2 separate regions of the Homo sapiens genome follow, and region 2 is linked to region 1. A link means that fine-mapping ties the variant in region 1 to the expression of a gene that starts in the linked region. Tissue or cell type: lung. Region 1 holds a variant in brackets; the other region holds the start of a gene. All regions are shown on one strand. Distances are from middle to middle.

The links. PIP is the estimated chance that this variant, and not a neighbour inherited with it, causes the effect.
Region 2: PHEX starts here. The variant in region 1 is fine-mapped to the expression of PHEX in lung (GTEx, PIP 0.93).

Annotation. Positions count from the first base shown.
Region 1 is chrX:22,111,147-22,120,011 of GRCh38, reverse strand. PHEX (phosphate regulating endopeptidase X-linked) reads right to left here. Exons shown (of 22, transcript NM_000444.6): 10 at 8,452-8,545; 11 at 5,426-5,554. Among named protein-coding and RNA genes, the nearest start is that of PHEX-AS1, 57 kb to the left of the region's middle. The variant C/T (reference allele first, on the strand shown) is at 5,149.
Region 2 is chrX:22,028,381-22,036,380 of GRCh38, reverse strand. PHEX (phosphate regulating endopeptidase X-linked) reads right to left here and starts at 4,056. Exons shown (of 22, transcript NM_000444.6): 1 at 3,258-4,056. The coding sequence starts at 3,375.

The DNA of each region.
Region 1 (8,865 bases):
CTTCATTCCCTGGCCTTCGTTGGAACCTTCACCTGCCCTCCATGGACATGAGTATCTACCTGGGGCACTTACTTATACATTACAGATATAAGCAATAATAATAATAATCAAACAAGGCCAGGCGTGGTGGCTCACGTCTATAATCCCAGCACCTTGGGAGGCTGAGGCAGGGAGATCACTTAAAGTCAGGAGTTCAAGACCAGCTTGGCCAACATGAGGAAACCACATCTCTACCCAAAAAAAATACAAAAATTAGCTGGGCCTGGTGGTGCACACCTGTAATCCCAGCTACTCATGAGGCTGAGGCACAAGAATGGCTTGAACCCAGGAGGCAGAGGTTGCAATGAGCCAAGATCATGCCAGTGCACTTCAGCCTGGGTGATGGAGCAAGACTCTGTCTCAAAAAAAAAAAAAAGAAAAAGAAAAAGACAAGAGTATTAAAAAATAAAAATAAATAAAGGGGAAAATTAGCAAGTGATAACTCTAGACATCCTTCCTGAACACAACTAATCCTCTCTCCTGCCATTTAGGTCATGAGCATATGGATCAGGGCTTGGCACAGTGGAACGAGAGCATCATCTCTATTTACAGTGATGATATATCATCAATTCTCTAGGGGAGTCCCACTTTCATGTAACTTTCCACAAAAGTAATATTAAATGCTTAGCTAATGGAATGTTTTAAAATTATAAATAATCTTCATCTAAATAAGATAAAAAATTAAAGAAGTCCTCTGATAGACAAAGTTATGATTTTTAGTTCTGGGGAATGGGGGAAGAAAGGGAGGTAAGGAGGGAGAAAATGTTAATATAAAAGTCAATGGAGGCCAGGGGTAGTGGCTCATGCCTGTAATCCCAACACAGGGAGGCGGAGGTGGCAGTGAGCCGAGATCACGCCACTGCACTCCAGCCTGGGCAACAGAGTGAGACCCTGTCTCAAAAAAAATATGTGGCTCATATTCCAGTTCAATTGGGTAGTGCTACTTTGGACTGCAAAGACAAAGCAACACTTGCAGCCAATCTCACGAGTTAAGGCTCTGTCCTGCTAACTGGGAGGCAAGGGATTGTACTATATGACCTCTTTTGGTGGCTTTCTGTTGAAGGACTCTCCTTTTCTACATGCTATTCTTCTCATTTCTAATTCAATTTGCTAAATTCCCATGGTTGTGTGTGTGAATGAGTATGAGAACGTTGGTGTATCGGTGTGTCCAAATGCACAGTTGGATGTAGGAAGTCTTAGTGAAACAGTAATATAGAATTATGTGTTTTCCCCAGTGAAAAGGAGGAGAACACTGATAGGTAGGAAACCTCAATGTGAACTGCTCTCTCCCACTCACTCTTTAGAAGAGAGGGTACCAACCACAGGCAGTTGGGCCAACTCTGTCATCAAGAGGTTCTCAAAACAGACACGGAGGAGAAGTGGGGCGGGAGTCTCTTAGTAAAACCTAGGTATCAGTTTTCAAAAGATAAAGCCTGGAGGTCCTAACGCAGGGTTTTTCACAGTCCATTTAAACCAATCTGAATCACAGAAATTTTCAATGATCTGAAAATTAAAGCAGTTACTTGCACTAATGTAACCGGTTTTGGTAAATAAAGTACTGCTATTCATGTCAACTGGCCTGGCCTGCTCTTGTGAGTCACCGAGGCTTTTTTTTTTTTTTTTTTTTTTTTTTGGTGCTGTTTACAAACAAATGAATCATGAGAAGACCTTGCTGCGCAAAGTGTGGTCCACGACCAGCAGCAGCAGTCGCACCTGGAACCTTGTTAGGCAAATTCTTGGGTCCTACCCCAAACACAACTTAAAAAAAAAAAACCTTGTTAAAATGCAATGAGAATCTGCATTTTTAACAAGCAGATGCTCACGTGATTTATGTACACATGTAAATTTGAGACATACCTGAAGTTTAAGCTTCTGACTGTATTCATTTGCTTAACAAACTTTTTTGGTAAATAAACAATGGCAGCCTTCCATCTGAGTTAGGGTCTCTGGAATTTGCCCCTTTGGGGATCTTTCTGTTTTTCTTTTTCTTTAGACTGTAGCTAATAATACTGAATGTTTTTCAAGTAAATCAGTGGTTCCAGGTGGTTCTTGGATGGGAGCCCTGTAAAAAAAAAGGCTATAAAAGGCCAGATATTTCTCTTATAAGTTTCCAACCTAAGTATTCCCTGAGGCAAACAGCTTCAGCACAAGGGAGGCAAACAATTTTACGTTAAAGAGATGAGTATCTGCCTAACTACCAAACTACCCCCACGTACATCAAAATAAGGGGGAAGATGCCAAAATTAACTTTATTTTAGAATGTCATACCCTGACACAAGGAAAAGGGACTTTCACACCAAAACTGAGAAAAACAAGTTTAATCCACATACTTTTCATATTAGTTAAAATTCTTCTACTGCCAAAAAACCTGCTATAATTTTTTTAAATCTTTCATTATCCTTTAATTGTTTTTATAGCCTTCCCAGAGATTATAATATTACTACTGTGATTATCTGATAAGATCTCAATCTATTTACTCTGACCAAAGAGCAAAAGAAAACACGCAATGAGAATACTGAGTATTTTGAAATAAGCCATTAATTCCTCAGTGGAATTATTTGCAAGGGAACTTTCAGGTTCAAACATAAAGTCTCATAGTTAGACAGTAAAAACAAGTTAACATAGGTCAATTTGTTCCCAGACCAAACTGAGGGTCAGGCTGCTATTTCTCACGGCCCAATAACGAGATGCAAATGAACTGGGGAAGAACAGAGTTTTATTTTCTGCCACTGGTTACAGGGAGAAAGCCTGGAAATTATCACCAGACCAACTCAAAGTTACAAAGTTTTCTAGAGCTCATATACCTTCTAAGCTATATGTCTACGTGAAAGTGTGCAATCGTCGAAAGACATAAATGATTAACTTCTTTTAATCTATAACTAGGTGTGAGTCTTGAAGACCTTCTTCTGGAGCCTCAGTAAGTTTACTTAATCTAAATGGGTCTAGGTACTGAGGTAATTACCCTTATCTTGTCTCCTGCTAAATCATAAAGGTTTGGGGAGTTCCTTTAGACCCCAGTAAACTTGTTTGTGGAGGCCTGTGGAGTTTCTTCAGACCCCCAATAAAACTTGTTTAATCCTAAAAGGGTCCTGTTAAGAATTCATTCATTATCTTGTCATGCTTCAAGATCCAGGAAAAGCCTAGGCAAAACTCTTGGTGGGCTCTTTGTTACATTCCAGGCTTTGTATATGGGCAGTGGTTCAATCAGCTTTTAATGTTTAACCTAGCTACTCAGTACGTGCTGGGACAGTTGTGATGGAGGCCTGTGTTAGTGAGACCTGGCCTGCCACAAATGTACTTAGATATGGTATTGCAAAGCAAACTTCAGTGCATAATACATAATCATGTATTATGTATCAATAATGACTATGTACTGATACATAATACCAACCATTTGGTATTATTATGTATCACTACGTGATACCAATCATTTGAACAATCATGACATTACAATGTCTTTGCCCTTTAATTCAGTGTTTATTGACCACCTGCATCCAAGCTGCTCATATATTTGTATCTTATTGACTACACGGATTATTATTAATCATGCCTGGATCTTTTACTTCATGACATTTGTAAAATATAATTCATCAAAAATAAAATGCAGACAAAAAACTTGGCCAAATCCATGTTTCTAATTCAAAATACACCCTCTCAATAGTGAAAAAACGAATAATCTGATTAAAAAATAGGCAAAAGATCTGAATAGACATTTTTCCAAAGACGACACATAAACAGGAGGTTTATGAAAAGGTTTTCATCACTAATCATCAGGGAAATGCAAATCAAACCATAATGAAATAGCACTTCACTACCTGTTAGGATGGCTATGATCAAAAATTTAAGAGGTAAGTGTTGGCAAAATATTCCTGGAAAAAAAGGAAACGCTCATATACTGTTGGTAAGAATGTAAACTGGTACAGCCATTATGGAAAATAGCATGGAAAATCTTCAAAAAAATAAAAATAGGACTACCATTCAATCCAGCCATCCCACTACTGGGTATATATCCAAAGTAAGTAAAATCAGTATATGGAAGAAAGATCTGCACCTTCATGTTCATTGCAGCATTATTCATAATAGCCAAGATATGGAATAAACCTAAATACCCTTCAATGGATAAATACATAAGGAAACTGCGATGTGTGCATGTGTGTACCACACAATGGAATATTTGGCCATAAAAATGAAGAAATGAAGAAAATCCTGCCTTTTGCAACAGCATAGATAAAGCCAGAGGACATTATGCTAAGTGAAATAAGCCAGGCACAGAAAGACAAATATTATATGATCTCACTTATATGTAGAATCTTTATAAAAGTTAAAATATAGAAGCAGAGAGTAGAACAGTAGTTGCCAGGGGCTGGGGGCAGGGAAATGGGGAGATATTGATCAAAGGGTACAAACTTCTAGTTCTAAGATGAATAAGTTATGGGGATCTAAAATATGGCATGGTGACTATAGTTACTAATAATGTATTGTATACTTGAATTTGCTAAGACAGTAAATCTTAAGTGTCCTCATCCCCCACCACCACACACACAATGGTAAATAAGTGTGACAACAGATGTGTTCATTTGATTGTGGCAACCATTTCACAATGTATGTCAAATCATCATCTTGTATACTTTGTGTTTGTTTTGAGACAGAGTCTCGCTCTGTCGCCTTGGCTGAAGGGCAGTGGCGCGATCTCGGCTCACTGCAACCTCCGCCTCCGGGGTTCAAGCAATTCTCCTGCCTCAGCCTCCCAAATAGCTGGGATTACAGGTGCCTGCCACCACGCCCAGATAAATTTTGTATTTTTTTTAGTAGAGATGGGGTTTTACCATGTTGGCCAGGCTGGCCTCAAACTCCTGACCTCAAGTGATCTGCCCGGCTTAGCCTCTCAAAGTACTAGGATTACAGGTGTGAGCCACTGCGCCCGGCCGTATACTTCGAATATATACAATTGTTATTAGTCAAATGCATCTCAATAAAGCTGAAAGAAAAAAAAATACACCCTTTTCTCCAATGCAGTTGAAACAGATGGAGAAGAACACGTTGCCACAGTGATGAGTCCCTCTTTAAATTCAATACCTCAAACCTCACCTACATCTGGACATGCCTGCC[C/T]TCAAGCAGCTATACTACATTCCCTCAGTTTATTCACTCTCCCACTCCCCTGGAAAACTACACACCTTCTCTCTCCTCTAACCTTCAATACCTGCTAACTCATCCTCACTCTCGTTTGATGACCTTTCTTCCTATTTCACTTAGAAGTTGAAAGAATCTGAAGACAATACCCACAGGCCACTACCACCTGGAAGGCTGACATTAGCCTGTTGAATATACCCTTGTCAGATCTGGCTAAATTGCCATTATTTTTTGCTAGCTGGGGAGTACCACTTACCATTTCCTTCTTATCTTCCTGGAAGTACACATCTACAAACATCTTTCCAACAACATAAGGGAGGGCACTTTCAATAAAGTTTACACATTTGTCCCATTGAGGCAGCAAAGTTGTGGTCCCCTGGATTACCTGTGGGAGATAATTGATCCAGATTAAACTTCATTTGGATAAAACCCATGGCTGAAAACAATTCAAACAACCTGAAGAAAACAGTCTACAAAACACTGCACACCCTAACCCATATATATGCATCAGATAGTAGAGGCAAAGGTAAAATAGTTGAAGAAAAAAATTCTGCTTGTCCCCATTATATTTCAAACTAAATGAAAATGTTTTAGGCCGGTCAAAGTGGCTCACATCTGTAATCCCAGCACTTTAAGAAGCCCAGGTGAGCAGATCACCTGAGGTCAGGAGCTCGAGACCAGCCTGGCCAACATGGTGAAACCCCGTGCTTACTAAAAACACAAAAATTAGCCGGGCACGGTGGTGCATGCCTGTAATCCCAGCTACTTGGGAGGCTGAGGTGGGAGAATTGTGTGAACCCAGGAAGCGGTGGTTGCAGTGAGCTGAGATTGGGCCACTGCACTCCAGCCTGGGCAATAGAGTGAGACTCTGTCTGGAAAAAAAAAAAAAAAAAAAAAAAGAAGAAGAAGAAAAGAAAGTGATTTAACAGTTAAAATAATATATGTATCCTTTCTTCCCAATTTTCCCCATTAAACAAAGAATCTGGACAATGGTATCACTTTTCTGCAGTCAGCAGGGACATGAGAGGATGCTATCCAAGTGTCTAGATAATATTTAATATCTCCTGAGAACTAAAGTTCCACTAAGAAGGTCTAGAATCAGTGGGTGATCAAAGTTCCTGCCCAGTGAGGGTTTCCTTGCTCCGAGTAGCACACTCAACAAGGCAGACCAGAAGAACATGGCCCACCATGAACAACACAGGGAGCATATTTACATTGTGTCACAGCAAAAAACACACTGATAAACAAGCAAAATACAGATGTAAATGCTTTGCCCATCTGTCCCAATTATACCATTGCAAGAAAACATTTACAAACAAGTAAGAAGTTTCCCAAGCAGGACCTGGGTCAGAGGTTTACTCTTGGGAATAAAAGCAGAGAAATAAATATAGTGTAAGTTGCCCTTGGAAGCTGGGGGTGCAGGCAGGGAGGAAGGGAGGCCCTGAGAATGGTGGTCAGAAGTGTCCTTTGCACAATGTTAGACCCAGGTTGTTTTGAGGAATGGGATTAAGGCTTAATTTCATCTATTCTTCCTCTGATTTCTGGTAACCTCTCTCAGAGGTAAGCGATGAATCTATTTTTAAAACCTCTAGAGAAAGAGATCCTACAACCTTCTTCGGCAATTCAATATTATATTTAGCACTTCGTGCTCAAGAAACATCCCCTCATACCTAACCTTAAATGTTCACACAGTGCTTCTTACACCTCTCTCATTCTCTTCACAGTAGGGGTGGAAAGCAGCTGGGCATCATCTTTTATGTGATTCGTAGCAGTTAAAAATACACACAAACACACACACACACACACACACACACACACACACACACACACACACACAAAACCTACTTGTTTTGTATCTTAACCCATCAATATGACCTAAATATATATATAGTTGTTTTATGCTGTTCTCTGTAAAAAAGACTTTTTTTCTTTTTTTTGAGACGGAGTCTTGCTCTGTTGCCCAGGCTGGAGTGCATTGGTGCCATCATCTCAGTTCACTGTAGCCTCCGCCTCCCGGATTCAAGCAATTCTCCTGCCTCAGCCCCCCGAGTAGCTGGGACCACAGGTGCGTGACACCATGCCCGGCTAATTTTTGTATTTTTTGTAGAGACGAGGTTTCACCACGTTGGCCAGGCTGGTCTCAAACTCCTGACCTCAATTTGCCTGCCTTGGCCTCCCAAAGTGCTGGGATTACAGGTGTGAGCCACTGCACCCAGCCCTAAAGTAACTTTATATGCTAGTGACTTTATAGGGTCAAAGCATATCCAAAATAATTGCACTACTCTTCCAGAGTAATGGCCCACTAAGAATTTCTATACTTATTAGTTCCTCTAATAACTAAAATGCCTCTTGAATGAAATCATAGCTTATAAGATTCACCATTCACTTAACTTTAAATTGATAGAAAAATAAAAACTGTTTCAAAGATACAAAATCCTTACGGCCTCTAGTGGTAGGAGAATTAGTCAGACATAAGCCTCAAAAACAAAGGTGAGAGTAACATGGGTACAAACTGGGAGACGAGCAAGGGTGGGAGAGAAGCAAAGGTTAAAGAGCCAGGTGAGGCCCGGCACAGTGGCTCGTGCCTTTAATCCCAGCACTTTGGGAAGCTGAGGTGAGAGGATCACTTGAGCTCTGGAGTTCAAGACAAGCCTGGGCAACATGGCAAGACCCCATCTCTAATAAAAATAAATAAATAAAGAGCCAGGTGAGCAGGTGGAGGAAAACCATCTCAGACAGTTGAGCAAGAAAACTAAATTGGAGCCTCTTGGACCTAGCAGAGGATAGATTCAAAGATGGAAGGTATAGGCAAAGTTTAAGACAAAATTCCATTTCCAAATTGAAAATGAAGTTCTACCATCCAATATCTCTATCATGCACATTTTAAATATTCAGAATACTGAGAATAAAAGATAGTTACAAATATATCACAAAGAAATGTTAAAACTATAATTACAGTGACCCAGTTAAAAACTCTGGGGGAAAATGGGAATACACTAATAAGACGGGGAAGTTTGAAAACAATGTGTGGCCTCAAGTATTTCTCTAAATATCTTTATATAACCCATCAAAGTAAAACTTGAGTGTACCTTACCATATGTAATTTATACCTAAATAAAAATAAATAAGGCACACACACACACACAAAAACAATAGAGCTTGGGCTACAAACTCCCCCTGTCTAATCCCTAAAGATGATTTTTACTGGATCAGTTAATATATGGACTATTCCAGCATGTAAAGTTATCCAGCGATGTAACACTGCAATCTTCTTAAACTTACCCTTGAGAATTCCAGCCATCTATACTGAAAGCGCCTGCTAAGGTTTGGAATTCTGGAATAAACCATTCTCCACACCAAATAGTTGGCAATGGTCCTGTTAACAGAGAGAGATGCCCATTTATTGTATTTTAGGTCAATATCTGATGCTCTGCAGAACATCTTGAGAGAAACAGTTGGCAAAGCTCCATCGAGGGACCTCTTACTCATACAAAAATGCAGAACTTTCACTTGAGAAATGACATAAGATGATACAATGTCAATAAGCACAACCAAAATTGGCTTGCTTTTCACCACCTAACAGAGATAGATGAAGGAAAGATTCCAGCTCCAGCCCTCAGAGTGAACATTTTACTTTCACTCTCAGGGTATAAAGTCCACTGTTACACAGCCTTTCGTGTCTGGAAATTGTGAGTA
Region 2 (8,000 bases), 83 kb after region 1:
GGTTTTAAATATAACTAATTAGGCCAGGCACGGTGGCTCAGGCCTGCAATCCCAGCACTTTGGGTGGCCGAGGTGGGCGGATCACCTGAGGTCAGGAGTTCGAGACCAGCCTGGCCAACATGGTGAAACCCCATCTCTACTAAAAATACAAATCTTAGCTGGGCGTGGTGGTGCACGCCTGTAATCCCAGCTACTCAGGAGGCTGAGGCAGGATAATTGCTTGAACCCAGGAGGCGGAGGTTGTAGCGAGCCAAGATCGCACCACTGCACTCCAGCCTGGGTGACAGAGTGAGACTCCGTCTCAAAAAAAAAAAAAAAAAAAAAAATATATATATATATATATATGTACGTGTGTGTGTGTGTGTGTGTGTGTGTGTGTGTATAATTAATTAATTGGGACACTGACAGACCCAACCCCTCAAGGAAGAGCATTATCTCCATGGATGGGGTTATTTTAAAATTCTCCAAATAAATGAGGATCAATAAGCCCAGATAATGTGAAGGTGTAAGTGAATGAAATAGAGACAATAAAGAAAATATTTTTAATATAAAAATTAAGATGTTACTTTTGAATGGTTAGGAGCTTTAAAAAATACATGTAAATAGCAGTTTGGTTTCTCATTGTAGATTTCTCTATAACCAGAGGAAATGCCCTTAGGATGCAGTGGAGTCATCCACAGATCAAGAGCATAAGAATGGCCAGAAAGCAGGGGTCAGCAAACTATGGCCTGTAGGTCAAATCCATTGCCTGTTTCTGTACAGCCCATGAGCTATGAATGGCTTTTACATTTTTTTCATGGTCAGGAAAAATAAAAAGGAAAATAATATTTCATGACATATGAAAAGTATATAACATTCCAATTTCAGTGTCTAGAAATCAGATTTTCTTGGCACACAGCCATGCCCATTTGTGTACATATTGTCTATGGATGCTTTTGTGCAACAACAGCAGAATTGAGTAGTTGCAAGAGGCCGTATGGCCCACAGAGCCAAATATATTCACTATCTATCTGGCTCTTGGCAGAAAAAGTTTGCCAGCCAGTGCATCTGAGAAACAGATTGTGGGGAGGAAAGAGAGGGGAAGGAGAAGAAGAAAGGTTTTCCATTCTGGTGCTCTGTAGCTTCTCAGAAGCCACTGCAAGACCACTGGCAATCACTCTTACTGTAGAAGCACTAAGGTTGCGAGGAGAGATTATCCCAGAGCCTCAGATACAAAGATGAGGTACGAAGGGATGCTAGAAATTGCAGGCATGTAAGTGAATGTGGACAGGCAGAGAAATATACCACAAAGTCAAGCAGGAAGCCCCTTGAAGAGACGACGACCCTAACTAGAATATTGTCATGAAGAGCATTGCCAGGCAGGTCCCTGGAGCTTTTCAGACAAGCACTTTGCCTGGGTGCAGAGTGGAGGTGGGTGGCAGAGTTGAGGAGAGGGACGGGGAGAGGGGGTAAGGGGGTGATTCTAAAATAGTGCAGAAATATTTGACAAAAAGAAGTGTCCCTGAATGTATACATCCAAATAGATATGGTCACCTGAAGCAATGCTTCTCAAACCTGCATTTGCAAACAGTCCCCTGGGGGTCTTGTGAAAATGCAGATTGTGAATCAGCGGGTCTGGGGTGGAGCTCAAGCTCCCCAGTGATGCTAATGCTGCTGGTCCACAGACCCCATTTTGAGAAGCAAAGTTGTAGAGGCCACAGCCTCAGTTTGCCCTTATTCTCTAACATCATTTGAGCTCCTCTTAGAGAGTCAAGGTGAGAGCCAGGTTATTGGGCACGCTGGAAAGTTCTCTTTCATATTTTATGCAGGCCTCCTTATCCATAATAGTAGCGTCTGGCTTGATGAATTTTACTTTGCTCTAAAAACATCGGCACTATTTCCTGAGAATAATTTTCTCTGAAAGAACAAAGATTTGCTGCCGCGGAGAATCTTTCAACCGATATGCCACGGCCTCAGGAGGTAATCATAAAAGTAGAGTTTTGTAAAAGTTTCGTGCAGTGGTAATATCGTTAAAAAGAGTACATATTTTTACATAAACAATAATTATTGGGATTTTTAAGTTTGGGAGCATTTGCAAAACCTAACCTTGCAGTCACGTTGCACGTAGCCTGTAGTCTTTTGGCATGCCCATAGAATTTTTCCTCTTGTTTGGAATTTCAGCAGAGGACCCTTGTTTAAACCCTAAGTGCTGAGAAATCTTACAAGAGTTTTCAAGAGCCACAGATTCAGTTGCAGGAGTAGGAGATTTCGCTTTATCAGAAAGCAATAAACCCATCTAATTTCCTAAATCTTCAGCCACAGAAAGCGTGGAAAGATGGTTTGCTCATTTTAGCAGTTTTCAACCACACAACCCTAACTCTTTTAAAGTTTAATTACTGGTTTACCCCTGCCAAAATAAACATGGCCTCCTGCAGGTTTGCTACATTTCAAACTGCACCTAGAATCTCCTCGTTCCTATGTAACGTTCAAGTTAATGAAGTATTATGGGTTGTATGAGAAAAATTAAAACGGTAATAGTCAAGGGTTCAGAAAGCCTAGAATTTTAGAAAATCCCTCACTCCTTTCCAAGATATTTGATTCTTTTTCATGGGAATACACTTCTATCATCCTATATACTCTCTGGGTACATCATTCTCACCAACAGTCATTAAAATAACTGAATCACAATATCTTTCAAATCTTGGGGGAAAACCTCTGTTTTCCTTCATATTAATTTGTAAATCAAATTGCATCTCACCAGAGTCACTGGATAAGAAAGGAATTGAAGAATATCATTAAAAGCACACTTTAAAGGACTGATTTGTGTTTTGTGAATTAAATTTCATGATTCGTTCAAGCAAACATTAATAAAAGTCAAATGGAAAGACACTCCAGCATGGTTTTCATCACAATGTAAAGTCTTTCCTCAAAATATAAATGAAACTATGTGACTATGAATTCACAAACACTCATTTTGCTAAATGTACCACATAAAAAATTTTCCACCCAATGCAACAGAATCAGCCAGCCACTCGAAGCCACTTACACCCACTTTGCCTTCTGGACTATACATTTGGTACTTGGGTGTATTTATTTATTTAGGCTCCTTAAAAAAGCCTTCTTTATCATTTGCATATTTGATAGAAACTAAAGATACACCACCTATGAACGCAGGCAAACAGCCCTATACCTGTGTTATGACAAGTTTTGCTACAATAAAGCACAAGGAAACTTCTCGACACACACCCAGTTCCCCCGGCCTCCTGCACTCCACTTACCTAGAAAGAGGATCGTGCCCAGAACTAGGGTGCCACCGACAAACACGACCAGGGCAATTCGAGTGCCTCTGTTGGCCTTCTTTCCAGTCTCCACGCTGCTCCCTGTTTCTGCTTCCATCAGAAGGGCCGTAGAGAGCACACGAGAAGAAAGTCACTTTTCGTGGTTTGGTGGCTGGTCTCAAGAGCGAGGCGTTGACATCCAAGGCTTTCTTGCTCTTCTACTAATGGACAGCTTAAGAAACTGCCGTCAGGAAATCTCCCCTCGCCACCCTTTCTCAAATAATTCTTCACAAATGAAAATTATAAAAACCAAAATATTGGTTGCCTTGGCTTTCCCCCTGACTAGACAAAACAAACAGTGTTGCTTTATCTTGGTGCTCTCCCTCAGCAAAGTCCCTGTTTGGCAGGCTCTTCTCTCAAGCGTTCCGAGTATATATGTTTTACTATGTTGCTGAACAGATGTTTTAGCTATTTAAATGTATAGTCACTTGGGGAGGAAAAAAACAATTGTTTTATCAAAACTGGATTCTCGTGAAACTCCCCCAAATCATGATAAGTTAGGTGGCCAGGATTCACCGGACCCACTTCAAGATCTCAATTAATCATGTAATTCTGTTGCAAGAATCATTCTGCTTGCCTGAATTGTCTTCATCAAAGATATTCTTTCAGTGTGTGAGTCCCTTTTTAAAGCCTTCTAAGAGTTCCTAGGATATCCTGGAGCATTTTATTTCAGGAACTTTGTGTATGATAGCATGTGCCAAAAATCAGTCATAGTCCAGTGCAGTGCAAAGTAGCAATTAAGACAACCTACAGAGGCTGATGGTTTGAACTGGAACTTTTTCTTAAAGGAAGGAGAAAAAGCACTTCCTCTTTGTGGTACTAAGAAGTGTACAAAAAAAAAAACCCACAAAAAAACACAAGTGCGTGAATTAAGTTTATTAGCAACTACAAAAGATATGATGAAAAATTTTTTCCTTGTGTGTTTTTGATGAAAAGTGCACCATGTGTTTTGTCTGCCACTCCTACTGAGGCAGCCATTCATTAGGATGTTTTTGTGTTTACATAAACTGTCCACTTCAGCAGATTCCCCAGGATGAATTCAAAGGCAATTGGTTTCAGGCCGGGCGTAGTGGCCCACGCCTGTAATCCCAGCACTTTGGGAGGCTGAGGCAGGGGGCTCGCTTGAGGCCAGGAGTTCGAGACCAGCCTGGCCAACAAGGCGAAACCTTGTTTGTACTAAAAACACAAAAATTAGCCGGGCATGTTGGTGAGCACCTGTATTCCCAGCTACTCAGGAGGCAGAGGTGGGAGAATCGCTTGAGCCTGGGAGGTGGAGGTTGCAGTGAGCCAGATCGCGCCACTGCACTCTAACCTGGGTGACAGAGAGAGAGACCCTGTCTCAAAAATAAACAAACAAAAAACAAAGGCAGTTGACTTCACTGGAAAGACTGATGAATGACTGGGTCTTTGATATTTTTGATTATGATAATGATTTAAACGATAACAATGTGCTTTCTTCATGGGGAAGGGCAACTGATATTCCAATGCTACCACTGAAATGATATAGATTTTATTATCCAAAGATATAGATATCGTTAACTCACAACACAATTACTACCTACCTGCTTTTGTTTTGCTGGAGGTCATAGGGCAGTGGGAGTGGGGGTGGAGAATTCAACTATATCTAGAAACCAGTAGAGCAATTATCTCAATGCAAAACTTGTGCGCATGGCTTTAGAGGTGACACAGGAGCTCAGCAGGTGCTGATGAGCTCAGTATAACATGGCCACACATTCATGGTCCTGTCTGGCTTGTCTTGGTCAGGGCTTAAGCCCTTAGCATGGGATTCTCTCAAGTTTTGGGGCTTATTCCATAATATACCTTACTTTCTGCTCATTTCATGTTGCGCCAAAGTCAGGGGGTCACAAGCCTTTGTCCAAGTTATGACATCATGGTGTGTTGTAGTTATCCTGTGCTCATTGGCTGTTGACATTATTTTGTTGCTGTTATTCCATAACACACCCTAGCAGGACTTTGGCCCCTAGTATGGGATTCTCCCAAGAGTTTTTGGACCTCACTCTAGAACACATCTTAGACCATGAGTTCCACAAAGTCAGGAACCATGTTCAATGTTGCAGCTCCAACATCGACATTTCCTGGCCCTTCACAGTGAAAAGGAGAGCAATAAAAATCATACAAGTTAGCCCTAGCCACTTACTCTTAACAACCAGCTTCAGCTGGGCGCAGTGGCTCACGCCTGTAATCCCAGTACTTTGGGAGGCCAAGGCGGGTGGATCACGAGGTCAGGAGTTCGAGACCAGCCTGGCCAACATGGTGAAACCCTGTCTCTACTAAAAATACAAAAAATAGCCGGGCGTGGTAGCAGGCGCCTGTAATCCCAGCTACTCAGGAGACTGAGGCAGGAGAGTTGCTTGAACTCAGGAGGCGGGTTGCAGCGAGCTGAGATCATGCCACTGAACTCTAGTCTGGGCGGCAGAGCAAGACTGTCTGGAAAAAAACAAATACAAAACAAAACAAAACAAAAAACCAACTTCGGGGCCAGAAGTGGTGGCTCACACCTGTAATCCCAACACTTTGGGAGGCTGAGGTGGGCAGATCACTCTAAGTCAGGAGTTCGAGATCTGCCTGGCCAATGTGGCGAAACCCTGTCTCTACTAAAAATACAAAAATTAGCCAGGTGTGGTGGCACGTGACTGTAATCCCAGCTACTCGGGGAAGCTGAGGCACAAAAATCGCTTGGACCTGGGAAGTGGAGGCTGCAGTGAGCTGAGATTGAGCCACTGCACTCCAGCCTGGGTGACAGAATGAAACTGTGTCTCAAAAAAACCAAAAGGCCAAGGTGGGTGGATCACCTGAGGTCAGGAGTTCGAGATCAGCCTGGCCAACATGGCGAAACCCCGACTCTACTGAAAGTACAAAAATTAGCCGGAGGTGGTGGTGGATGCCTGTAATGCCAGCTACTCGGGAGGCTGAGGCAGGAGAATCGGAGAATCACTGGAACCCGGGAGGCGGAGGTTGCAGTGAGCTGAGATCGCAGTACTGCACTCCAGCCTGGGCAACAGAGCGAGACCCCATCTCAAAACAACAACAACGACAACAACAACAACAAACAACAAACAACCAGCTTCAGCTTCAGGAACCTCACATGCTAATGTCTGCGGGGGGAGGAAGGGTGTCATCTTTCAAGGCCCTAATTATTCCTTCTCAATGCTCAACTAAAAGTGATACTTCATATAGGCATAGCACATTCGCTTTAACCTCATGGTAAATCTACATACTTGATAGCAAAGGTATTTTAACTCTGTTTCACAAATAAGGACACTGAGACCAAGGAATGGCCTCAGGTGGCATGGGAAAATCACAAATGGATAGATGGGGGATGGGATCATTGCCATACATGGCATGTCTGCTGCTTGACAAAGCTTCCTGTGCACAGCGAGAGGACAGTCACCCAAGCACGACACCAGGACTCACTTCTTTCCTCTTTCCTTCCTCCTCTCAATCTCCTCACAACTTTCAGTGTCCCCACTGACATTGAATAGTGGCCGTGAGTTCCTAGCTGGAGTAGCCTTCACCTGCCTTGAACTTGCAATTCCCCCAGAGGTGAGGGCAATTTGGGGATTCCCTGAAGTTATACCTACCCATCACTTACCGACAGGAATTCATTCCTGAACGGTCAACTGCTGAGTGAAAAGCCATTAAACCAAAAAAAATACTTTCATTAATTGTAATAGGAAAATTATGATGCATTCTATCCCAAACTAAGATATGCAAACACAGATAGAAAAATGTATTCATTTAACTTAATTGTAAATTTAAAAATAACTGAAAGACTGCCATTGGATTGTTTGTAACACTAAGGATAAATGCTTGAGGGGATGGATACCACATTCACCACGATGTGATTATTTCACATTGCATGCCTGTATCGAAACAACTCATGTACCCACAAATATATACACCTAATATGTACCCACAAAAATTAAAAATTAAAAAAAGTAATTTTAAAATGTATTACTTGAACAATGAAAACAAGTCTGTAAGAGTAATATAGAACTGTCAAAATATTGAAAATAAGCATAATTTGTGTAATGTAATGTAATGAAGGTTTCTTTTATTCACCAGAGGAATAAAGGAAAACTTGAGAGTGGCGGGACTGACAGAGGAAAGGATGTGGGAGAATCATTCATTACAAGGTACATTGTTCATTCTGTGCCATTTTCTGCATTAATTTTTCAGCCTTTTAGGAGATGATGATTATCTTGCCCTCAAAATAAACCACACTTAAAGTAACACGGAAAAAAAAAAGAAAAGAAAAAAAACCCTTTAGGGCAAAATAAAGAAGTTCAAAGCACAGGGAAATAATAGGTGCTCACAGGACTAAAGCAGGGGTCTGTACACAAGAGTACATGGGCCAAATTTGGCCCACTGCCTGTTTTTGTAAATAAAGCTTTTTTTGTTTTTCACCTTTTTGTTTTGTTTTGAGACAGGGTCTCGCTCTGTTGCCCAGGCTGGAGTGCAGTGGCGCAATCTCGGCTCACTGCAACCTCCACCTCCCAGGTTCAAGCGATTCTCCTGCCTCATCCTCTCGAATAGCTGGGACTACAGGTGGTGCGCCACCACGCCCAGCTAATTCTTGTATTTTTAGTAAAGATGGATTTTTGCCATGTTCCCCAAGCTGGTCTCGAACTCCTGGGCTCAAGCGATCCACATGCCTCGACC